Homo sapiens: one gene and its partners. The protein of the gene in region 6 purifies or fractionates together with the protein of the main gene of each other region. This does not show direct contact. Each region holds a gene or a part of one and is shown on either strand. Other genes may lie near its edges.

What was found.
Region 1: the proteins of NETO2 (region 6) and TMEM168 purify together in Homo sapiens (affinity purification with mass spectrometry; one large-scale study listed by BioGRID and IntAct). This does not show direct contact.
Region 2: the proteins of NETO2 (region 6) and WDHD1 purify together in Homo sapiens (affinity purification with mass spectrometry; one large-scale study listed by BioGRID and IntAct). This does not show direct contact.
Region 3: the proteins of NETO2 (region 6) and KRT17 purify together in Homo sapiens (affinity purification with mass spectrometry; one large-scale study listed by BioGRID and IntAct). This does not show direct contact.
Region 4: the proteins of NETO2 (region 6) and HS6ST2 purify together in Homo sapiens (affinity purification with mass spectrometry; one large-scale study listed by BioGRID and IntAct). This does not show direct contact.
Region 5: the proteins of NETO2 (region 6) and TIA1 purify together in Homo sapiens (affinity purification with mass spectrometry, with the first as the bait; one large-scale study listed by BioGRID). This does not show direct contact.
Region 7: the proteins of NETO2 (region 6) and NELFCD purify together in Homo sapiens (affinity purification with mass spectrometry; one large-scale study listed by BioGRID and IntAct). This does not show direct contact.

What each region holds. Positions count from the first base shown.
Region 1 is NC_000007.14:112,766,394-112,769,893, forward strand, and holds part of TMEM168 (transmembrane protein 168), read right to left. Parts: intron 1,352-3,500; coding exon 804-1,351; 3' UTR 1-803. UniProt on the Homo sapiens protein: Plays a key role in maintaining the cardiac electrical stability by modulating cell surface expression of SCN5A. May play a role in the modulation of anxiety behavior by regulating GABAergic neuronal system in the nucleus accumbens.
Region 2 is NC_000014.9:54,943,600-54,947,099, reverse strand, and holds part of WDHD1 (WD repeat and HMG-box DNA-binding protein 1), read left to right. Parts: intron 1-2,629; coding exon 2,630-2,768; intron 2,769-3,500. UniProt on the Homo sapiens protein: Core replisome component that acts as a replication initiation factor. Binds directly to the CMG complex and functions as a hub to recruit additional proteins to the replication fork.
Region 3 is NC_000017.11:41,621,776-41,625,897, reverse strand, and holds the start of KRT17 (keratin, type I cytoskeletal 17), read left to right. Parts: upstream 1-1,322; 5' UTR 1,323-1,388; coding exon 1,389-1,820; intron 1,821-2,865; coding exon 2,866-2,948; intron 2,949-3,386; coding exon 3,387-3,543; intron 3,544-4,122. UniProt on the Homo sapiens protein: Type I keratin involved in the formation and maintenance of various skin appendages, specifically in determining shape and orientation of hair. Required for the correct growth of hair follicles, in particular for the persistence of the anagen (growth) state.
Region 4 is NC_000023.11:132,707,130-132,710,629, reverse strand, and holds part of HS6ST2 (heparan-sulfate 6-O-sulfotransferase 2), read left to right. Parts: intron 1-2,135; coding exon 2,136-2,168; intron 2,169-3,500. UniProt on the Homo sapiens protein: 6-O-sulfation enzyme which catalyzes the transfer of sulfate from 3'-phosphoadenosine 5'-phosphosulfate (PAPS) to position 6 of the N-sulfoglucosamine residue (GlcNS) of heparan sulfate.
Region 5 is NC_000002.12:70,224,629-70,228,128, forward strand, and holds part of TIA1 (cytotoxic granule associated RNA binding protein TIA1), read right to left. Parts: exon of another isoform or gene 3,195-3,500; coding exon 3,107-3,194; exon of another isoform or gene 766-3,106; coding exon of another isoform or gene 729-765; exon of another isoform or gene 100-728; coding exon of another isoform or gene 2-99; coding exon 1-1. UniProt on the Homo sapiens protein: RNA-binding protein involved in the regulation of alternative pre-RNA splicing and mRNA translation by binding to uridine-rich (U-rich) RNA sequences.
Region 6 is NC_000016.10:47,137,446-47,140,945, reverse strand, and holds part of NETO2 (neuropilin and tolloid-like protein 2 isoform 1 precursor), read left to right. Parts: intron 1-3,500. UniProt on the Homo sapiens protein: Accessory subunit of neuronal kainate-sensitive glutamate receptors, GRIK2 and GRIK3.
Region 7 is NC_000020.11:58,991,256-58,993,434, forward strand, and holds part of NELFCD (negative elongation factor C/D), read left to right. Parts: intron 1-56; coding exon 57-191; intron 192-625; coding exon 626-765; intron 766-1,742; coding exon 1,743-1,857; intron 1,858-2,179. UniProt on the Homo sapiens protein: Essential component of the NELF complex, a complex that negatively regulates the elongation of transcription by RNA polymerase II.

The DNA of each region.
Region 1 (3,500 bases), on a different chromosome or scaffold from region 6:
ATGAGAGTACTTTTCAAAAAGGAAGACAATTTATTGGAAGAATTTGTAGCTGGAAACACTGTTCATTAAGAAAACATTAAGTTACCCTGAGAAAGACTCTTAATATTACCAGTGTTTTCAGGGCCCCCTGACCAACGCATGGAAGAGCAACTTGTAGGCTCTAGCCTTTTAACAATACCTACATAAAGAATATTTTGATCTAAAATGTAACTTGGGTTCTCTGCCACACTGGTAATAAGTCACAACCAAGACATCTGAATGTGATGGAGTATAAGCAAATTTTGCGTTTATTTTAGGCTGCCCTCTTTCTTTTCTAAGAGAAAGAGTTTGCAGTTCTTCAAATGGTCTTGGATGAAACCTACTGTTTGGAAAAAAGAATCTTCTGTAAGTAAACTGGTAGTTTTCTTAAAACAGTAAACAAATTTATCTGGTCTACATTCTCTAAACTATTATTATATGCCTAGAAAATAAGGCATTAGTAATTCATCATTGACCATTGCAGAGCATAGACAACTGTTTCTTTCTAATCAGGACCATAAGCAAACATTCCTGAAAGTGCAGTGTTATTTTTAACGTCTCTTATGCATTTACAGTAAGCATTTGACTCCCTACATACTTTCATTATAAAATGTTTTTTCCCAACGCCTTATATATACCATAATTACTTAAGAAAAGACAAAGTGAGAGCAGCTACAGAAGTAGCAAGGTATTTTCCACAAATAAAAATACAGCATACAAAAAATGGCAAGTTAGTGATAATTGGTAGTATGAGTGCTTATTAATATCCCGCTTTGGGGTCCAAATTAAGATTTGACAAGTTTGAAGCCTTGTCCTGTGTCCAGCACAGTAGGAAGAAACCAACTCATTTTTAATCTTTTCAAGCACCTAAAACAAGTTTTGCAGATCCAAAAAAGGTTCAGACCGCATAACCAATTTGCCAAATGCACTAGGGGATATGTAATACGAGGAAAGTGTAACATCCAGTGCTTGGCCACATCGCTTCCCGTTGGCAAATGCAGAGTGTAGTCACTCCACCGTTTTGACACACCATATACTGCTTTCACTGTGCGTCCCTTTTCAGTCCAGCAGATGTTATTACTGGAGTTGCAGTTATATTCTACCCAGTCTTTTGTAAAGTCACCTAGCTGTGGCGGGTCAGCTTCTTCAATATCTACTGTTTTTATCAACTCTGCTCCTTGCACTGCAATATACTGGTCATTAATTTTCCTCACTTCTTTCACCCAAGGGGTTGAATTTTCGCTGTCTAATACGATAATAAGCCGGGAACAAAAGGAACCATTCTTTTCTCTCCACCATTCTATAAGTGTGTCAAGGCGTAGTGTATCTCCACCTGTGAACAAGAGAAAATTCAATGGAGCAATAATTTCTGCAGCCTCTCATTAAGAAAACCCTCTTAATCATTTTCTTCTAGAGAGAAAATACTCTTGTTATACATGTATTTTCCTTAAGTTCTTAGAATTAAATAAGCAAAAAAATAAAGTATTTAAATGACACTTTCAAAGTATCTTTTGAAAAGATATTTTTTACAACAGATTTTCAACTTGAGGTAAAAAAAATCCTTATTACTCACATAAAAAGGAATCTGCTAGTATAAAATTAAGGAAATAGTTTTACACAGTTGTATTTAGTGAAAACAACTATACAGAAAAGCTAACATTCTACACCAGGGGCAGCAACTACAACTCATGGGCCAGATCCAGCCTGCCACCTCTTTTTGTATGGCCTGAAAGCTAAGAATTGATTTTATATTTTCACATGGTTGAAAGAAAATCAGAATATTTTGTGATAGTAAAAACTGTATGCAATTTGTTTCATATAATTATTTTCATAAATAAGTTTATTGGAACACAACTACATTCATTCATTTATACCGTCTATGGCTGCTATTGCTCTAAAGTAGCAGAGCTGAATAGCTGCAACAGGCATCTAAACCCACAAAGCCAAAAATATCTGGCCCTTTACAGAAAAAGTTTGCCTCCCCATTCTGTATCATTGTTTCCTTCTCTTCCTCATATGTAGGTACCTATTGAATGAAAATAAACCCTGTTCCTACCTGTACAAGAATGAGTTTAAGAACAGATTTACATTTAAATCAGTTTTATAGCTGAAGAACAAGGGATTAAAAAAATATATATACCCAGAAAGTTCTAAAGTAAATAAACTTCTGACTACAGGTTTTACATCTCGTTATTTTTTTGCATTAATTTTGATTTTTAAGTATACTACATTAAAATATTCATTTTGATTATTGAGTTTTTTGGCATTCCCTTATGTTTTGTGCCTGAGGCAACTGCCACCCTCACCTCATCTGGCCCTGTCTCAATGGTACACTGATAACGATCATTCCAATTCTACGAATCTATCTTAAGGAAAGAACAGACATAGGGACAAAAAATTACAAAAAAAGACGACCTTCCCATTTGGGAAATGGAAATGAACTATGGCCTAAAACCTTAGGAGGAAATCTTATAACAAAATATTTATAAAGAAAATTTATTGATGAGAAAATGTCTATATTAGAAAAAGCATGACAGTACATCTACAAAAATTATAACAGCAGCTATTGCTGGGTGTTTCACTTCCATGTGGTTTTTAAAATATTTTTCTGACAGTTTTACATTGAGCATAAGTTACTTTTACAATTTACCAGCACAAGACCCAACATTTTCCCCAAATCAACTGTCCTCTTGGTTTCACCATTAAAAATGGACACCACCAGAGAGAGAATCCTTTAGAATTGGGATTCTATCATATTCTTTATGTGTCATTTATTAATGTTTTATTAATCAGTAAGCTTAAGAACCTGAAAATAAACTTTTTTTATTAATCGCTCTAACACTCACACATATTATCTCAGAGACACTATTTCAGTACATTGTCTCCACATATTACTAATGTGTTATTCCACTGATACCTCCAAAAGATACTTTTTCAAAAATGGCCAAATGTTAACTCTCCATTATTGTCAGCTCTATTAAATTTCTCTAGAGATCAGAAGATGACACAGATTACAAGAACTATTATGTAAATTCCATCTGCCACAAAACATCATTGCCCAACATGCCATCCACAACTATTTCAATAAACATTCTTGAGCATATTCTACCCTAATTCTCTTATATAAATGCTCTTTAGATATCAACGAGACCTAAAGCAGCATTAAAGCTTTCTAAACAATTTCTCTTGTTTTGCTCTGCTTTCTCCTATGAATAGGTTCTATGCTACATTTGGCTTTTGGCCCAGATTCAAAGTACTTACATTTATCTAAGCTAATATCCATCTGATGCATTTTAAGTAATTGAGACTGCTTTTTAAAGGTTTTATTTGTAATAAACTGCTTTATAAATTATCTACATTTTTTCCATTTATTTCTGTCTCTCCTGTAATTACCATAATTGTTTTCTATCCTCAAGCAGAGGCAAAAATATTAGGTTCCATATCATGAAACTCCATAAATATAAGAAGACTACATATTCTAA
Region 2 (3,500 bases), on a different chromosome or scaffold from region 6:
CCAAAGTGCAGGGATTACAGGTGTGAGCCACCATGCCTGGCCCGCCTAACACTTTTTTTGAGACAGTCTTGCCCTGTCACCAAGGCTGGAGTCCACTGGTGCAATCTCAGCTCACTGCAACCTCCACCTTCTGGGTTCAAGCAATTCTCATGCCTCAGCCTCCTGAGTAGCTGGGATTACAGGTGTGTGCCACCATGCCCACTAATTTTGTTATTTTTTGGTAGAGATGGAGTTTGCCACGTTGGCCAGGCTGGTCTCAAACTCTTGGCCTCAAGCGATTTGCCCATCTCGGCTTCCCAAAGTGCTGGGGTTACAGGTGTGAGCCACCACACCTGGCCAAGCCTAACACTTTGGAAGGCCAACATGATCAGTTAGCTTCAGCCCAGGAGATTGGAACCAGCCTGGGCAATGTAGGGAGACCCCATCTCTACCAAAAGTTTTAAAATCAGCCAGGTGTGTGTGGTGGCACATGCCTGTAGTCCCAACTGCTTGAGAGTCTGAGGCAGGAGGATTGCTTGAGCCCAGGAATTTGAGGTGGCAGTGAGCTGATTATACCACTGCACTCCAGCCTGGGCGACAAAGCAAGACCCTTTCTCTTAAAACAACAACAAAGAAGATTGATAATTTAATTTTTCATACTATCAGTTGGTTATACAAAAAACTTACTTTTGAAATTTTAAGGAATTACCACTATTGAAACTAATATTTTGTCACAGATGTTGATATACTTAATCAGAAATGTCCAGTTTTAGCCAGGTGGCTGTGCACTCTTGTAGTCCTAGCCACTCAGAAGGTTGAGTCAGAAGGGTTGCTTAAGCCCAGAAGTTTGAGGCCAGCCTAGGCAACATAGTGAGACTCACGTCTCTTTAAAAAACAAAGAAAGAAATGTTCAATTTTGGTTTTCTTTTTAAAAATAGCTGTTTAGAAGTAGATGATTGCAGGCCACTAAGTAGACTTGTGACATTGCCCCAAGTTTCATTAAAATGGGTCTTCATTAATTTTTGGAAATTCAGGAACCTTTGTTATACCTTGATTTTTACTTGTTTTGATTTGTTCTGTTATTTTTCTGGAAATCGGTTTACGTTAAGATTACTTAAAATTTGCATATTTTCAGAAATTGGGCAAATGGTTATGGTCATACTAGTAATTTTTTAATAAAAATTTTTTTAACCTTAAAAAGTTTAGACTTTTTATTTAGGATTCATTTAGGTTCAGCCTAGTGAGGGGCGTATAGCTGCTGGGTTAAACATAAGAGACTCTGGGCCAGGCACAGTGGCTCACGCCTGTAATCCCAGCACTTTGGGAGGCCGAGGCGAGTGGATCATGAGGTCAGGAGTTCGAGACCCACCTGGCCAATATGGTGAAACCCTGTCTTTACTAAAAATACAAAAATTAGCTGGGTGTGGTGGCGCGTACCTGTAGTCCCAGCTGTTTGGGAGGCTGAGGCAGGAGAATCACTTGAACCTGGAAGGTGGAGGTTGCAGTAAGCCAATACAGAGCCACTGTACTCCAGCATAGGGGAAAGAGCTAGACTCCATCTCTACAAAAAAACATAGACTTTGGAGTCAAATTGCCTGGTTGTTGGATCCCAGGTCTGAGTTTTACTGTTTGTGTAACCTGGGATAGGTTATTTCACATCTCTGAGCCTCCCTTTTCTCACTTATGGAATGGAGATAATAACTGTATCCATCTCATAGTGTTATTGTCATTTAAATGAGGTACTATACATAAAGCTTTTAGAGTAGTGCCTGGTAGATAGTAAGTGATCAGTAAATGTTAAATATTTGCATTAAACCTTCACTTGTGTGACTTAAAGACAATTTGTATTGTGAGTGGAATCTAATGAAATGTACAAATGTGCTGTGTCCGTGCTTCACCTAATGCTGATGCAGGTCAGCTCTGAGAGCAAGGGTGAGGCGATGGCAAAGGGGCTTGAGAAAAGTCGTGAGGAATTCAAATAGCTGGTTTGGGGAAATAGAAAAAGAGCCTACCAAGGACATGTGGTAGGCCACAAGGGCTAAGTGAGGTTGGAGACCTTGAGCCTGTCAACATTCATTAAAAAGTTGAAAGTACAGAGTTCATGGTTGCTGCACTTGGAAAATACAAACGTGAGTGATCCTTTTGAATTGACCTTACAAAGGATTTTCCAGTTCATTGATCCTGCAGTCTCCAGGCAGTTTAAAGTAATATGAGGCCAGGCACGGTGGCTTATGCCTGTAATCCCAGCAGTTTGGGAAGCCGAGGCGGGCAGATCACGTGAGGTCAGGAGTTTGAGACCAGCCTGACCAACATGGTGAAACCCCATGCAAAAAATTAGCCAGGTGTGGTGGCGCATGCCTGTAATCCCAGCTACTTGGGAGGCTGAGGCAGGAGAATCGCTTGAACCCAGGAGGCGGAGGTTGCAGTGAGCTGAGATCGCGCCATTGCACTCCAGGCTGGGTGACAGAGTGAGACTCTGTCTCAAAAAAAAAAAAAAAAAAAAAGTAACATGAATTAACAAGTGTAACTGTGTCTTCCTTACTTTATATAATAGATGTCAGAGACTTATGGTTGATTACTAACTTAAAATCATGAGGCACTTTAAACTCTGTCTTAAGTATAAAATGTTTTCACATAATTGTGATTTTAGGCCAAAGACCGGGTTCCAGATGTGGTTAGAAGAAAATAGAAGTAATATTTTGTCTGACAATCCTGACTTTTCAGATGAAGCAGACATAATAAAAGAAGGAATGATTCGATTTAGAGTATTGTCAACTGAAGAAAGAAAGGTAAGGATAATTGTGCCGAGATTGAGATCTTAGTGAATTCCCAGATTTAAAAAATTCTTATAGAAATGCCTTTTGGCTGGGTATGGTGTCTTATGCCTGTAATCCTAGCACATTGGGAGGTCGAGGCGGATCACTTGAGCTCAGGAGTTCGTGACCAGCCTGGGCAACATAGTGAGACATCGTCTCTAATAATAATAATAACAACAACAAAGATAATAACGATCATGACAACTAAAAAAAAAAGGAAAAGCCTTTTTCTGTTTTTGGAAATTGAATACATCCACCAAACTTTTTAAAGAGGAAAGTAAGTGCGGATATATGGTAATATGGATATGTAGTAATTATTATGTAATGGTGATGGGTTTTTTGTTTTGTTTTTGTTTGAGGCAGGTCTTGTTCTTTCACCCAGGCAGGAGTGTCGTGGTGTGATCATGGCTCACTGCCACCTCGACCTCCTGGGCACAAGCAATTGTCCTCTTTTTTTTTTTTATAGAGACAACCTCTCACTGTGTTGCCCAGGCTGGATGGTTAATTTTTTGACGGTTTACTGTTTTAATCTCTATAAGTTCCTGTATGTTTTAAGTTAGGAGAATACCCCAAGAAAAGATGCATTTGTTAAAAATCAAAAGTGTCAAGCTGAGTTCGTTGGCTCAAGCCTGTAATCCTAGCACTTTGGGAGGCCAAGGCAGGAGGATCTCTTGAGCCCAGGAGTTTGAGACCAGCCTAGACAAC
Region 3 (4,122 bases), on a different chromosome or scaffold from region 6:
GCCCAGGAAACCAGACCGGCTCTGCCCCAGCTCGGGGTGTGTGTGGGGCGGGGTGGCCGCTGTGCGTGTACGCGTAGGGGGCATCCTGTTTGCTTTGGTGGCTTGGCAGCCACTGGGCTATTGAGGAATGTCTCTCGGCTGCTGGCGGGGCCGTCTGGGCCTGTCTGGGAAGTGGAAGCCATCGGCAGTCTGAAACATGACCACATTCCACCCAGCGGGCCTGGCGGGACCCTGGGACCCAGGGCCGGGCTTGGGGTGGTGGGCAGGGCAGGGTGGGGCTGTGGGGTGGGGCACATGGCCCACCTGAGGAGCCACATCTTGGGGAGCCTGGAGTGGGAAGGGGGCTGGCTGGGGTCTCTGTAAGAGCCTCTTCTTGGGCAATGTCCTTTAGGTTTCCTGTGGGCTGAGACCTGAGATAAATACCCGTCACCTGACCCTGAGGTCTCTTGGGGTACAGAAGGGTGAGGGGAGTGGAAGGGGGCATCCCCCTCTCAGTTGGCACAGCCCACCATTTCCCCATCCTATAGCTGAGCCCCTGTTTGCCCACCCCAGCCTGGAGTGTAAACCTGGGGAAAGGTTTACACGAAGAGACTGGGTTAGCAAGGATTTCTAGGGATGGGGCAGGGTCAGAAGCTGACTGGATGGAACTGTAGCCCCTAGAGTGCATTCCTGGGTGTCAGGCTCTGCAGAAGGGGCCAGTGTGGACACGGCACCCCTCTGGAGCCCCAATTTCTTTATCTGTGATGTGGGTTGGTCTCCGAGGCTTGATGGCATTTCTATGCTGTGAGGTGGGCCTGGTGGGTTTGGGCTCAGTTTCCAAGGCAGGATAGGCTCTCGGTCTCCTCTTTCTCTTCAGCACCCAGCCCCGGGGCCAGCACCGTGGGTGGAGCAGTGTGGGGTGAAAGACAGCAACTTTGGCGGGGGGGTCAGCTGACACTGCAACCCATTTCCCCACCAGACAGGGTTGAGGCGGGCCAGGCTGGGGTGGTGGCTGCCTGGGAGGGCCTGGGGACGGTGACGTCCTGCCTTCTCCTCTTCTCCGTATTAGGTCATGGGAAAGCATAGCTGGAGGGCCCGCCTGAATCACAGGTGACGGGCCTGAGACCAGAGGCACGCACACGCACGGCACTCAGCACGAGGATTTGGAGAAATGAGGCAAATTCCTGATGATGGGCGGGGAGGGGGCCCCCAGCCACCTGGGAGCTGGCAGGTGGCCAGTGGTGATGAAAGCCCAGGGGAATGGAAACAGAGGAGCAAGCCTGTTGTAATCGCTACGCCCACTTGGTGGCCTATAAAGGAAGCGGGCGAACCCCGGCAGCCCTACACAACTTGGGGCCCCTCTCCTCTCCAGCCCTTCTCCTGTGTGCCTGCCTCCTGCCGCCGCCACCATGACCACCTCCATCCGCCAGTTCACCTCCTCCAGCTCCATCAAGGGCTCCTCCGGCCTGGGGGGCGGCTCGTCCCGCACCTCCTGCCGGCTGTCTGGCGGCCTGGGTGCCGGCTCCTGCAGGCTGGGATCTGCTGGCGGCCTGGGCAGCACCCTCGGGGGTAGCAGCTACTCCAGCTGCTACAGCTTTGGCTCTGGTGGTGGCTATGGCAGCAGCTTTGGGGGTGTTGATGGGCTGCTGGCTGGAGGTGAGAAGGCCACCATGCAGAACCTCAATGACCGCCTGGCCTCCTACCTGGACAAGGTGCGTGCCCTGGAGGAGGCCAACACTGAGCTGGAGGTGAAGATCCGTGACTGGTACCAGAGGCAGGCCCCGGGGCCCGCCCGTGACTACAGCCAGTACTACAGGACAATTGAGGAGCTGCAGAACAAGGTAGGGCCTGCTGGTGGGAGGGGTCTCCGGGGGGCATGACTTCTTCCCCCCAACTCCTGCCTTGGCCAAAGGCCTGGAGTCCAGCCATAGGGTCTCAGGGAGCCAAGGGTGGTTTGGCTGTGGCTTAGCTTCTGGGAACCTGCCTTGGGGCCCCTGTGTGGCTCACATCCCCCTTTTCTGGGGACAGCAAGCTGAGTCAGGAACAAAGAGGCCTTGTGGAGCCCCTTGGAGCCTCAGTTTCTCCCTCGTGGAGCTCCGCCACCTGGAGAGGTTGTAGGATGAGGCAGGAGGATGCAGATGGAGGGCTGGGCCCGTGGGCTGCTGGATGTGTGGTGTCTTGCTCCTTTGGAGCAGGGGTCAACAGGAGGGGGTTTTGGGTGATGTGGAGTGGGGGTGTCTGAGTGAGCTCCTGATAGCACCTGCTGCAGGAGGAGGCAGAAAGGAGGGGGCGGGACCTCAGTGTGGGGAAGGCCTCTGATGTGCCTTATTTGGGGATTTTTCTGGCTTCTCCTTTCCTCCTGCTGTCCCTTAAGACGGGCTCAGCAAACCCCAGGGGGCGGGGCTGCTGGCTGGCGCCCAGGGTTAGGGATTAGGAGGGGTCCTGACTTTTGATTTGGAACCACTCTTTAATGAGGGCTCCTTTAGCCTCCTTTTGGGGGAGCCTGTCAGGGGCACCCTCTAGCTGACTGTAAAACGAGGGGGTTGCCCACATCCCCTCCCTTGTTCTAGAATTCTGGGACAGCTTCTGCCCTGGGGACATTTTCCCATTCTTTTCTGGTTGCCTCATACTCCCAGCCAGCTGTCTCTTCTCCTTTAAGGCCGAGCCTGCCATGGGGGTCTGGTGGGGTACTGAGTATCGGGGGAAGAAGAGGCACCTTTCAGCCCTTCAGACTCCTGTTTGCCCCTCCTCTGCCAATAATACAGCACGGGGCAAGGGAGGGGCTGGGCGAGAAGAGAGGCCCTGAGGCAGGAAGATCTGCTCAGAACCCTGGTGTGGGCTCAGCCACCCCCATCCAATGACCTGACTACTCTCCCTTCTCCTCAGATCCTCACAGCCACCGTGGACAATGCCAACATCCTGCTACAGATTGACAATGCCCGTCTGGCTGCTGATGACTTCCGCACCAAGTGAGTCCTAGCTGTGGCCTTGGGCAGCCTGGGCCAGCTGGCGGAGGATCTCAGGGTACCCCTCCTGACCCCAGGATTCCTTGGTTGCTTGTGGCAAGGCCCAGGAGCTCAGGGTGGGGCAGTCCTAGGAGCCCCACTCCTTAGTCCAGGATGCAGTGAAGGCAGCCAGTTCTGAAGGTTGCTGAGCTTAGGCAGGGAATAGAAGAGAAGGAGGGGAGGCGGGAGGCGGGAGGCAGAGAGAAGTAAGGAAGCTGGTGGGCGTGGGATCTGGCCCTGTGATGGTCCCGGGGTCCCGGGGCTGGAATTCGTTTCCACTCGACCCTCTCATCAGCCCTTCCAACTCCTTAGAGTCCTGGCAAAATGAAGGCAGGTGAGCAGCCAGGACCTGGATCTGCAGGTCCAAGCAGCCTGGGCTGAAGTCTCTGATTCCCACGGCAGGTTTGAGACAGAGCAGGCCCTGCGCCTGAGTGTGGAGGCCGACATCAATGGCCTGCGCAGGGTGCTGGATGAGCTGACCCTGGCCAGAGCCGACCTGGAGATGCAGATTGAGAACCTCAAGGAGGAGCTGGCCTACCTGAAGAAGAACCACGAGGAGGTGAGGTGGCTGGGGCAGAAGGTCAAAGATGCTGAGGAGTGGGTGGCAGAGCCCTGGGGCTGGGCAATGGCTGAGGCCGTGGGAGAGAGCAGAGCAGGTGCACCGGGATTAGTCACCTTAGAGGGCTTCCCTGTCTGCAGAGCCCTGATCCTTGGGGTCCAGTGTGCAGGGCAGACTCCTCTTTGTACCACACTGCTTCTCTGTACACAAGGAACCTCCCAGGGGCCTGCAGAGGCTCCCTCTACCTACCCTGCCTCCCTCATGAGGGTGGGGGATAAGTAAGGAAATCTTGTCCCATTTCAAACTCTCAAAGCTGAACATCTACATAGAAGCTTGGAAATTAGAGGGGAACTTTTGGGGGCATAGGCCTAATAATTAGATTTTATTTTGGAGAGTCCTTGGTCTAATGGGGGAGATAGAGTCTGATGGTGGAGGCAATACTGAGCAGATGAATAAAAATCATTTAGAGGGTCAGATAGAGCAGAGGGAGAACAAAGGAGGGGTCCTTGTGGGAAGTGGGGTCCCCTTGTGGGGGAAGGCTTGGGAGTGAGAGGTCAGGATGGGTCCAGATGCGCACAT
Region 4 (3,500 bases), on a different chromosome or scaffold from region 6:
TCCATACATAAACAAAGGCATAAATAAAACAGGGAGAAACTCTTTCCTAGAATTGATAATATACAGTATATTTCTGTAGAACTCTTTTCCAAGCAGATGGCCTAAAAATATTCCACAAGATTGTAAACTCTGTAGAGTCAGGGATTTTTGTCTGTTTTATTCACTACTCAGTACCTCTAACCTCAGTACCTCTAACAATGGCTAGCACATAATAGATAATAAATATTTTTTAATAAAACATCATGATTAAAGGGCCTTTTTAAAGGATTTCATTAAACAACCTTCCCAAAGAGAGTGTGTGTGTGTATGCATAAAATGGGTTCTTAAAATTAATTCATTCTCTTCTAATTAGTATGTATCTTTTGTTTTACCTTTTCCCTATGAACTTTGGCTCACTTCTGATGACTGGCCACCCTTTTGATTGATGCACCTGTAACGTCTTCATGGATCGTCACTCAATACTCCACCTCTTCCCACCTGGGCTCCCAGGTAAGGCAATGAGCTTCCAAAAGTCTTCTCAGTGCAATCACCAGGCAAATTTTATAAGGCAGTCAAGAAGTTTACCTAGAAATAAAAAAACTCAAGAGACAATAATAGTGATTAAAGTTAAATTTGATCCCGTTCCCATATAAATCAATTATTTATACACTTAACATCATTTGAGAATTTCTGTTAGTACAGTGAAATAAAAATTATGGCTTTGGAAACTGCTGCATACTTAACTTTGGAATTTTCTGATCCTAGGAATCAATATATGGCTTTATGTTTTCCTTCTAAAAATATTTTCTTGTGTGTGTGTGTGTGTGTGTGTGTGTGTTTTGTCTTTTCACCCAAAGTTGTGTTGTTTTTGTTCACAAGGCCAAATTTTGTGGAAGGGATCATAGCCTCTCTTCACTGTGTAGGGACTCTAAATCATGGGGTAGGTCAGTACATTGTAGATTACTTATTTCTTGCGGCTGGAGTAGAAGACGAGCACATTGGGCTCTGGATGGTAAGTCCACTAATAGGAGTGTCTTGTCTAACAGATTTGATGTTAGGCCTCACCAAGTATATCGCTTTTGTTTCTCATGACATTTGCTTCCCCAGCAGTCTTAACAGCTCAGAAACAGGGAAAGGGGGCTTAACCGCACCAGAGACTGATAATAAAAGAGCCATGTATTGCTTCTCAAATGATGATTCAAAGGCTCTGCTGCTAGCCATGCTATTAAAAAAGGCTCTCTTAACTCACTTCTAAGGCCTGCAAAGCGTATTTGCTGTAAAGAAACATTTCTCCCAAGAAAATGCACAGGCTATATAGCCCACTTCGGGCATAAAAGAAGTGTTGCTACATTGTAAAATTCCTTGTTCTGGCATAATAAAAAACAAAAGGCTAACTGAGCCCATTTGAACCCTCAAATTAGCAACTGACCTGTGTATAACTTCACAGTCTCCGCCTGCTAATAATATCAGTAATTCACACAGTGGAATGAGTGTTTTGTGACCCTTAAGACATACATTATAAAAACAGCTGAGCATGTTTTTTGAATGGGGAGACATTGCTTACTTTGATGGATGTCTTGTGTTTGGGTGGAAGGGACTAGAGAGATGATTTATATATCACCTTATGTGTGCTTTGAATTTTCATCTTTTTAAAGAGCATCAGTAAAGTTTAATTGTTCTTTATTTTCCTTTTGTTATTTGTGTTTCGTATATTCCTGATAATATGAAAAATCCCTGCCAATTCCTCCTAGGACCTTTCAATCAGTCATTTCCATTTCAGTGATGCCACAGGGTTGGGTTTGGTTTGGGTTTTGTTTTATTGGCTTTTGTTTTTTTACCTAGATTCCCATTGCTCTCTGTGAAGGGGAATGGAATTAGCATGAGTGAGTGGTAGATCCATCATTCCCAGACCACAGCACTCCAGGGATCTGGCTCTCAGTGCAGCCTTGCCCCTTTTAGCCTTCTGATTGGGAATCTCCCCATTACTTGAGAGGAGCCAGTGGGGAACAAAGTGGAGAAGCCATCTATGAGCTGTTTCCCTAAGGTTTGGGAAGCTGGAGAAATATGCTCTTAAAGCACAATGGAAAACTTTTATTATTTTATCTCCTCTCCTACCAAGCTCTTGCTAGCGACTGGTTTTACTGTTCCTTTAACAGGTGGAGGATTTTTCAGATTCTAGATGCAGCAAGGTAAGTAACAATGTATTTTTAGTTTGACTGAACCCAAGTAAGCTAGAAAAAAGAGACTCTGCAGTTGCCTGTCCGTTTAATTTCAGTACAACAAATAGTTAAGTTTTTGGCTTGGACAAATTCTTTCCAGGGCTTTTTTTTTTTTTTTTTTTTTTTTTTTTTAGTTTAAAACAGCTGAAACTACCCAGGCTTGGAGTCTCAGTTCTGAAGGCTGACTTAGTTCAGAAGGGGGATGAATGTTCAGGGCGACCACCCCAGACAGGTGTGCAGTAGGTCATTAGCTCTTTTTCCTCTTTTTGCTGAAATAGGATGACACAGTAGAGTGTGTTGTTGAGAAGACCCCAACCGTTGGCAAAGTGTTCTTTACAGTGCTTCAGGCACGTCTGCCTGTCCCTAGGCTGGATTGTGATTTAGAGAACAAGTAGGTCAGCATTTCCTTGAAGGGAAATCAATTATTTGAAAATATCAGGGCTTTTAACGTATGTAAATACGTAGACTTGCATATTTACAAGTAATCCCATAGGCCAGAGGCCTTTTTGACATGAAGCCTGCAGGAGAGCAAATCTAATCAAATACAAGAAAGTTCCTCTCTGTGGGGAAGACGGACGCTGAGAATGCTCCCAGATGATGCCCCTGCAGGCAACAACTGTTGCTAAGAGCTGTACCATCATATTGCCACCAGAACCGGAGAGTCTAGCAAGAACCATAAGTCATTTTGGAAATGTGTGCTCTAGTCGCTTGGCACATTGTTTTCTAAGGTCATGATGCTCACCAGTACTGTCTTTGGCTTTTTGTAGGCTTATTGGCTCCAGAAATATTTACTAGTGCCTCTGTTTTTTCTTAATACCCACCTACAATCCACCCTGTGCTCCCTGGCCAAATAGGTTAGCAAGAGCAAAGACTGTAGCTCTGGCATTTCTCCACAAGGACAGACTCCCATTAAAATAGACTACTTGAGCCATTTTGGGGATGCCCAGTTTAGCTTTCTGTAGCTGGGCTTCCATACTCCCATTAGAGCCTCAATGGATTTACTTGACAGCTGAGAATAGTAAATTTAGTGTTTAATTTTGTAGTCAGATTATAATTTATTGAGCTAAATGGCACAGACACACATAGACACCTAATCACACAGTATTAGTATGGGAGAACATTTAAATATCATAGATTGGGTGTGTCATGGAGGCAAAGTACCAAGTTCTGTTACTAATGAGGTGACTTTTGTCAAGCACTAGCTCCACTCTGAGCCTTAATTTCCTCGCCTGTAAAATAAAATGGAGCGGATGACCATTAAGACAATGGTCAATAACATAGGTACCACTATCCCTATAATAG
Region 5 (3,500 bases), on a different chromosome or scaffold from region 6:
TCTGAAATCAGAAACAATCAGAAGTTTAGGTTTGCAAACTATCCTCTGGATATCAAATAAGAATTTCACACACAACTCATTCTCATGTTTCACCTTCATTAAAGTGAACCTTTAATGCAAATTCACCTTTTATTCTACAAAATTTATCATGTATTAGGAAATGAGGCTTAATTTTATAGACATGCAAATCAATAACTTAAGTATATATGTATATTTATATTGTACAGAAATTGCCTCTCTCTTCAAAAAACTTTTTAAACTTTTAAATATTAAGCATGGTGAAAGCAGCTACTCACATGAACTACTTAACCACTTATAAAGTTCACAGGACATTAGATGAATGGCTTTCTTTAACCATGCAATTTATAACTTATTTGACACTATATTCTACCTAATCATTAAAAAAAAATAGAAAACTGGAAACCAAAAGAATGAAAAAGTTGTATATTCCCTAAACTAATTAAACTATTTAATTTTTTCAGATCAATTTATACCCCCCTTTTTGTCTAAATTTTGAGAACTTGACATTTTCAGAAATGTTAAATCATTGAAGAAAAATACTAGACACACACAAGTTTTAAGCTAGACAAGAAAAGATTTTACACTGAATTTTATAATAGCATTCATATAAAATTGATTGGAACTACAAGATATAAAAGCAAAATTTTAAAAAGTCAGAAAGTAAAAAAGCACGCCAACATTTATCCACTGTGAACCGTAGCTTGTAGTTAGCCAGGGCAATTCTGTCCATTCTTCAGAGACACTCTGCAAAATAACCAGAGCCCTATTATTTGAGATTGAGTAAAAACCCAGCCATGATAGCTAAAACTCCATACCTCAAAAAATTGGACTCAAATTGTGCTTCACAGGCAATCTGCTTTTAAGTTAGTCAGGTATGTCACAATGCTTGCTCTCTCAGGACACATGAACAAAACAGGCACTTTTATAACAAAAACCCAAGTCAGAAAGCCATGCAATGTAATTTTCTATTAAAGTATACATAAGCATATTTTAGATCAATCTGAGTGATTTATTAAGTGTTCAGGGTCAAAATGACAAAGACGTGGTGGTGAAAAGGGAAAATTAATGTAAGTCAATGTTCAATATGCAAAAATACTTAATAAATTATCTGTATGGTACGCATGCATTTAATCTGGTAGCTGACTCTCTTCTACGCTGTAATTTGTTAGTCTACCCTAAACTCAAGGAATAGGAAGAGTTTATAGGCTGTATATAAGGGAAAATACCATATTTTTTATACTACATGCTTTTACAGACCACTGTTTATTACACATCTATAAATCAAGCACTGATATTTGCACTTTTTAGAGAATATCATGAGAACCCTTCAACATACAGTTATCAACTTATCTCCTTTAACAACAACAAAAAATCAGGAAAATATGCTACTGACTGCCAAATGATTCCTTTAAATGCAGGAAAGCTAATTCCTTATATAGCCTAAAACTCAAACATTATACATTATCTCAATTGAAAATCATAAAACTTAAAGGTCTTACCAAGAAAAAAAAAGTATACACCAATAATCATGGGACCATAAGAAAATCTACAGACTAAAAATATGACACAGAAATATATTTAAGAGAAAAAAATATAACCCACGATTTGTAAATCATGAAATTGCTAAAATCTGAAGGTCACTTAACTTAAACTCACCAACTGTTAAACAATCTTTGCCTAATTCCAAACTAAAATTCCCGTGTTTTCAAAAAAACTACCTCAATTAAAATCAAAGCATTTAATAAAATAGCTACTTAATCTGTTCACAATGTTAGAAAATTTTTTCTTCTTAAAGTTTCAGAAAATGTTAGTCTTGAAAAATATTCAACTCATTTATTTCTCTCTGAAAAGATTCTCTGAAGCAGCAGCAAAGATCTAGATCAGGCTTCTTTATCCTTTTATGGTTCTATGACTACTCTGACAATAGGATAAAATTTACAAAGATTTTCCACACCAAAATGAAAACACAAAATTGTGCATAGAGATTTAGAGCCCTTGAGAGGCCAAAGGCTAAGACTGTCTAAGTCCAGATATTCGAAAGCAAGCTAATTATTATTGAAACTCTAAGATATTATTAAGAAGGACAATCAAGAAATGAAAGCTGTACTTATTTTCCTGATCAGGTCTCACAAAGAAAAATGTCATCTGAAAGAAGTCCATTTATAAGCCCTAATTCTGTGACCACCTTTAAAGTTGGTAATTCCTTGGTCACATCCCCTAATCAAGGAACGATAACTCTTCAAACGAAAGCTCCTAAAATTCACCAATACTACTGGCATTTACTTTCCAGTCTCCTCATCTCATCTCTGCTGTTGGTCTGTTCAAACCAAACCACAGCTAGCACTTCCTTTTTACTATTCTTCTAGGTGGAAAAATAACAGAGCAAGCAGAAACCCTGAAGAAGTTTTCTAAGCTAATTACTCTACAGAAAGTACTGTAAACAACTTGTTATTCTTACTCTAATATGGCATGCTTTTCAAAATTTTAAAGTTCTTCTATGATGAATGCTATCTCAAGTAAGGTATTTATTCATAAGGGCCTAAAATGTATGACTAATAACAAGTGCAAGCAAGGCAGTGCTTCATAAAATATTATTAAGGCACTATTATTGTTAGCAGTTTTTTTAAAAGGGTGTAAATATCTAGAAAATAATATTCAATAACTGCTTTTTAAGTTGAATTGTTAAGGTTTCTTTTTGTTAAAATATATTAACACAAAATGCATGGTATCATAGAAGTACCCAACAGATCTAAATTCCTTAGTTACAGCACAATTTTACTAAAGATTGTCACCAAGCTAGCTTGATACCTATATAAGAAAGTAAAACATGTACAATGGCAAATTTGTCTCTTAAGAGCTATGCTAATTGAAAAAGGATTTTAAGATAATTGAAAACCAAAGGTTTATTCATCAATGGGAAAACAATCTTTTGCTGTTAACTTCTTGAATGATCTCTAAACAATGTAATACATTATATTCAAGTTATAAAATTAATGTACAAAATTCACAACAGAATTATTTTCAAGTTATGTCTACATATAATTGTTTCTAATTAAAAGGATTTTATTTATCTTCTGTTACTTACGATATTCTTCCAAATGGTGCAAAAGCAGCTTTTATATCTTCAGTTGTAATTTCTGGGCTGAGATCACCAACAAAGACATGGAAATGATCTTATAAGGGGAAGGAAGGGGAAGTGAAAAGAAAAATAGAACTTTAGAATTTAAAAAGTACTAAAATCTATCCAATAAAGTATTCTTAAAATGATTATGGCTTATGATAAAGTATAAATAAAACACTATCCTATATCTATACAAATCCTACCAATTTTAAACAATGAATCAAGGTAACAATATAGGAAAAATTCTCCTGAAACGACTGTGATACATCTAACTGTAAAGTGACATTTATATTTCTATTTACAGTCAATTATTACACTGGTCTAAGAAAATAAACTAATAACATACAAGTTTCAGTTC
Region 6 (3,500 bases):
TTATAAATCCATTTTTTGTTCTTATTCTGCACACTTGCTTCAGGAGAATCTGTTCGACTCAGCAATATTTCAAGCTGTAGAAACTGGTTAAATTTGTAATGTAACAGCAAAAATATTCCTTGGCACTGTATTTAAAAATCTTGTCTGAGACGGTGCAAGTATTAACTCGTTTTTCATTCTTACATTTCACCCAGGACTATAAACTAGTTATACAGAAATAAGTGTGGTACTGAAAAACTTGTCCTTTAATACTAAAGCCTTATTAAAAATCAACTTTTTGGCTTTTCCTTCCAGGGGTTGGGAAAAACTGTTTTAACACTGTCAATTGAAAAGTCTTATTAAATAATGGTTTTTTTGTAGTAAATCCTCAACTGCAATCTGGTTTATCTTTCATTTTGAAATTAAAATCACTATTTAGGAAAAACCCTGCATGACAAAACAAGTTGAAATCAAAGCCATTTTCAGTCCTTTTTAGAAAAGATAGAAAAATGATAGACTAGAAATAAAGTTCATATCTGAAATTTTAAAACAATAGACTACCTCCTTCTCTTGGGGTACCACCCATCCAGCACAATCTCCTATCATTTTTCAACTTACGCTCCTGTAGAATAATTATTTATACTTAGAAATACGTCTCCCTGAGGCACTGGAGATTGAAATTATTATGATCTTTGAGTTGGAAAGGAGCATCTTAAGAGGTGGTCTAATCCAATGGTTTCCAAACTTCAGAGGAACTTTTGTGAGGAAGCACTTGAAAAAAAAAGGAAAAAGGACAACAGAACAGAGTTGCTGTGATTGGTGGGAGGCCTTGCCCTCTCAGTCACCTCAAACACCAGGGTGGCTCCAAGAACTGACACTTCAACGGGTTTGTTATATTGCTTCCAAAATTACAGGGTATACTAATCTGAAAGTTCAGTCCTTTCTAATCAAAATGACATTAAGACATGTTGGTTTAAATATGCCTGGAGTAACATTGGAAATTACAGCACTAGAAGATACCAAGTAGTCTTTCAAATATGACCTGATCATGTTAGAAGGTGATGGTAGTCACTGTACAGTCAGGAGGACTGATGTGTAATTAAAATACAGCTTACAAAAGCGCCATCTCAGATCAGCTCGACTAAGGAGGAGTTTGTCACATTCTGCAGGAAAGAGAAAGCACTTCTGCTATAGAGTTACTCTTTCTTACTAAAGTGATTGGCATGTCATTAGCATATGTAGGCTGGAGTGATCCCAAAGTTCACCATCCATCTTTGTTCTTAACTAGTAAAGTATGATTGAGTTTGATTAAATTTGGGTACTTTTTTTGTTCTTTGGAACATAGTTTATCAAAAACAAGTGACTGCCATGTCAAATAGTATGTGGACTCTAATTGAACTCTGTTCTGCTGTCATTATAGGAAATGGTAATGAGCAGAGAGACCAGGTAGGTGGTTCTCTGTGTTGGATTTTAAAAGCTTTATGTTTACCACTGAGTTGCTTAACACAGGAAGATGTAGAAAGAGACACACTTAATTACTAACAAAGGTAAATTGAGCCAGCTTGAGGAAAATAACAGTGGTGGCAGGGTATCTCAGGAGGGTGGGGGGGAATCTCAGTTCTTTTCCCATCCCCTGATTTGTGCTCGCATTTAAAAAAGCAAGGTCACATGTGTGGCTACTGTTTGTTCATCCAAGATGTGTGCCTGTCAGTTACTGTGCTATGTGTTTGCGGTTACAAAGAAGATGCACTGGAGTCGCGCTCAGTCACCCCCATGTGTTCATCGTGTCTGTATTGAATACTGTTGAGGCCAGACAGTCTTTTAGGCTGTGGAGATGCATCAGTGAATCAGACAGACAAGGCCCTTCTTTCTAGTGAGAAGAGACAGACAACCAACAAGACTCAAAATACCAGGTAATATAATAATGAAGTAAAGCAAAATGAAGGAGAAAATGTAGCGCTTATTTAGAAATTGGGAAAGCCTCACAAGACCTGAACAACAGGAAGGAATCAGCCAAAGAGATTCTAGGCCGAAGGCACAGCTGGTTCCTGAGGCAAGAATTAGCTTGATGTGTTTTGAGTGATGGGAAGGCGGCCTGTGTTCTAGTAGAGAGCGCTCGGAAGGCCAGAGAGACACGCAGGCTCCAGGTCACATAGTACCTCCGAAGTCAGAGTAAGGGGCACAGAGTTGTTCTAACTATAATGGGACTCTACTGGAAGATTTTAAGCAAGGCTGTGATGTGATCTGATTTGTATTTTGAAAAGGTCACTGGCTGCTGTGTACATAATACACTATAGGGACTGTGGCAGAAACTTCCAGTTGTCTAGAAATGTCCATTTAACTATTTGTCAGTAATTCTCTGAATTTAACTGAGCGCACAGTTCCCCAAAATGAAGACTATTTACCAGTTTCCTGTTGGTTTAGGTGACCATGTGACTAAGTCTAGCCAGTTAGATATAAGTAGAAAATGATGTGTGCAACTTAGGGGAATTGTTGTTTTTGTTGTTTAAACTTTTATTTTGAAATCATTGTAGATTATGGGCAAGTGTTTTTGTTTTGTTTTGTTTGAGATGGAGTCTTGCTCTGTCACCCAGGCTGGAGTGCAGTGGCACGATCTTGGCGCACCACAACCTCTGCCTCCCAGGTTCAAGCGATTCTCCTGCCTCAGCCTCCCCAGTAGCTGGGACTACAGGCGTGTGCCACCATGCCCGGCTAATTTTTGTATTTTTATTAGAGACGGGGTTTCACCATATTGTTCAGGCTGGTCTTGAACTTCTGACCTCATGACCCGCCCACCTCAGCCTCGCAAAGTGCTGGGATTACAGGCGTGAGTCACCGCGCCTGGCCCTGGGCAAGTGTTTTTAAAGAAAGAGAGAATGCCCTTTATCAAGTCATCATTCTTGATAACTAGAATGCAGACATGGGAGCTATAATGAAGATAGAATAGCTGGCACTCCAGCCTCATACTGGACCATAGGGTGACCTTGGAAATGAGCCTCTCACAGCTGGGTAGTGAGACAGAAGGAACCCAGGTCCTGGTATTTATAGAGCCTTCACTCTGATGCTTGACTCCCTATGTCCAGCTTGTTCGCATGACAGAGCAATGTATTTCTATCTTGTTTTAAACTGTTAGTTTAGGTATTTCTGTTACTCATGCCAAACCTAATGCTAACATAGAAGTGTGCAAAATCAGTATAAGAACAAAAAAATTAAAAAACAGATGGAGAGCTGTTGAATGATCAGAAGTGAAAAGTCTGAATGCAGTCAAGTAAAATTAATCTGGAAAGGGTTCCTGGAGAAAGCAGGTTTTAGAAAATGTACTTTCATGGAAGCAAAGAGGTCCAAGGTCCCTGGCAAGTGCAGATGTTCAGAAACAAGAAGTATTTGTTGGAGCCCTTATAAGAATAGATAGTAGAGCCTTCACCTCAAGTTCAACGTTTCCAAAATCGACTCAACTCCTTTTCGCCCACCCCTGCCCTGCCCAATCCATATTGGTCCAAACATGTCTCCTGCCACTACCA
Region 7 (2,179 bases), on a different chromosome or scaffold from region 6:
GGGTGAGCAGTGCCCTCACGCCTGCCATCCCGAACTGGGCATATGCTTCTCCTCAGATCCGCGTTCCAGCCTTCCTGGACCTGTTCATGCAGTCACTCTTTAAACCAGGGGCTCGGATCAACCAGGACCACAAGCACAAATACATCCACATCTTGGCGTACGCAGCAAGCGTGGTTGAGACCTGGAAGAAGGTACCATCGGTTCTGGGAATTTGTGGATTTTTTAGGAGACAAATATCCTCCTCTGCTTTGATATTATTTTGGAATTTTGGCTGCAAGAAATCTTGACCCTCCCTAGTATCAGGCATGTGTTTTCTTGTGTTTCTGCGTAGAGAAAGCACTAAACGTCTCCAGAAAATGTGCGTAATGTCTCCAATGCTCTGCAAACCGTAAATTGAAATGTGACTAAAGAAATGAAACTGATTTCCGTAAGACATGGACAAACACTAGTCTCATTGCTTTTCAGTTTCTGTACACTGTGTGACTGTGAAGTTTGACAGCTGAATTGACTCCCAACTTAAGTAGAAATAGGGAAAGTGCTTTGCAAGAAGTGGCCGACACCAGAACACCCCGACAGCAGGGATATCTGCCCTGTCAGGCTCACCAGCTTGTGTGTGTGTTTTCAGAACAAGCGAGTGAGCATCAATAAAGATGAGCTGAAGTCAACGTCAAAAGCTGTCGAAACCGTTCACAATTTGTGTTGCAACGAGAACAAAGGGGCCTCTGAACTAGTGGCAGAATTGAGCACACTTTATCAGTGTATTAGGTAAGCAAAACGAAACTCAGTTCTTAAATCAGTCCTTTGGGGAGGAGGTCGTTTGAGTTTTCATATTGAAAGCTCAAATAACAAAAGCTTCAGCGATACTTGTTCATTTTATTTATTTTTTCATTTTTAAACAGTATGTAGGGAACTTTAAACAGCTTTAGCAGCATGAGTAATTTTCAGATGTTTATTTGCCAGAAGTCTGTTGAGTACAAATTAGGCTAAGTAAAAGATAGCCAGAGTTAACAAAAATTGATTTGAAGGGTCTATTTATAGGTAAAGTTATGCCCACAAAGTATTGCTTACATAGAAATGATTTGTGATTATGCCAATCATATAAATAGACGTGTCCTAGAAATAGTGTGTCCTCTTAGGCATGTCTTTCCCCTAATAATTTATACTAGGGATGAAGAAAGAGTTTGCTAAATAAAGGTAAACTTCAACCCAGTCCACCAAACTCACTGAGTATCACTCATTAATGATCTTTTCCTTTCGATAAGTGGTTTAAAGTGAGCAGAGAATTGAACTCTGCTTCTTGCACCGCATGTTGAGTGGCTGCTGATCCATTCACACTATTTACTAATAAGCAGAGCTTACGCCAGGCACAGTGGCTCTGGCCTGGAATCCCAGCAATCTGGGAGGCCAAGGCAAGAAAATAGTTTGAGCCCAGGAGTTTGAGACCAGTCTGAGCAACATGGTGGACCCTCTCTCTACAAAAAATTAGCTAGACATGGTGGCACTCACCTGTAGTCCCAGGTACTCGGGAGGCTGCAGTGAGCCATGATTGTGTCATTGTACTCCAGCCTGGAAGACAGAGTGAGACCCTGTCTCAAAAAAAAAAAAAAAAAAGGGTTGGGGGGCGTATTGAAGGGTGAATGATGGAGTCATTTGAGTTTGTTTTTAACTTTCCTTTAATGCTTTTCTAGCATATTTTGTGTTTTAAATTGTTTTTTAAAGGAAGCATTCTGCCTTAACTGTAGGTTTCCAGTGGTAGCAATGGGTGTGCTGAAGTGGGTGGATTGGACTGTATCAGAACCAAGGTACTTTCAGCTGCAGACTGACCATACCCCTGTCCACCTGGCGTTGCTGGATGAGGTAAGAGGGCGGAGAGCTGTTCACAGCCTACACAGTGTCTGTCTCATGCTGTTTACGTTGGCATTAACATTGCATCTATTCAGTGAGTTTAGAGGATACTCTTCTCAAAAATAGTTATTTCTGTCCTGAGGATTTTCCTCTTAAGGACCTAGCTTCATTGACTGCAGAAATTTCTTAACCTCAGTCAAGTGTTACTGGAAGCTGATGGCCCTGGCTTAGGTGTCAGGACCTTCTTCCACAGTGATAAGCTCTTTGGTGGCTGTGACAGTGCCCAGTTTCTCTGTGTGCTGAGCGTGACCACACTGCTCAGCGAAGCTCCCTC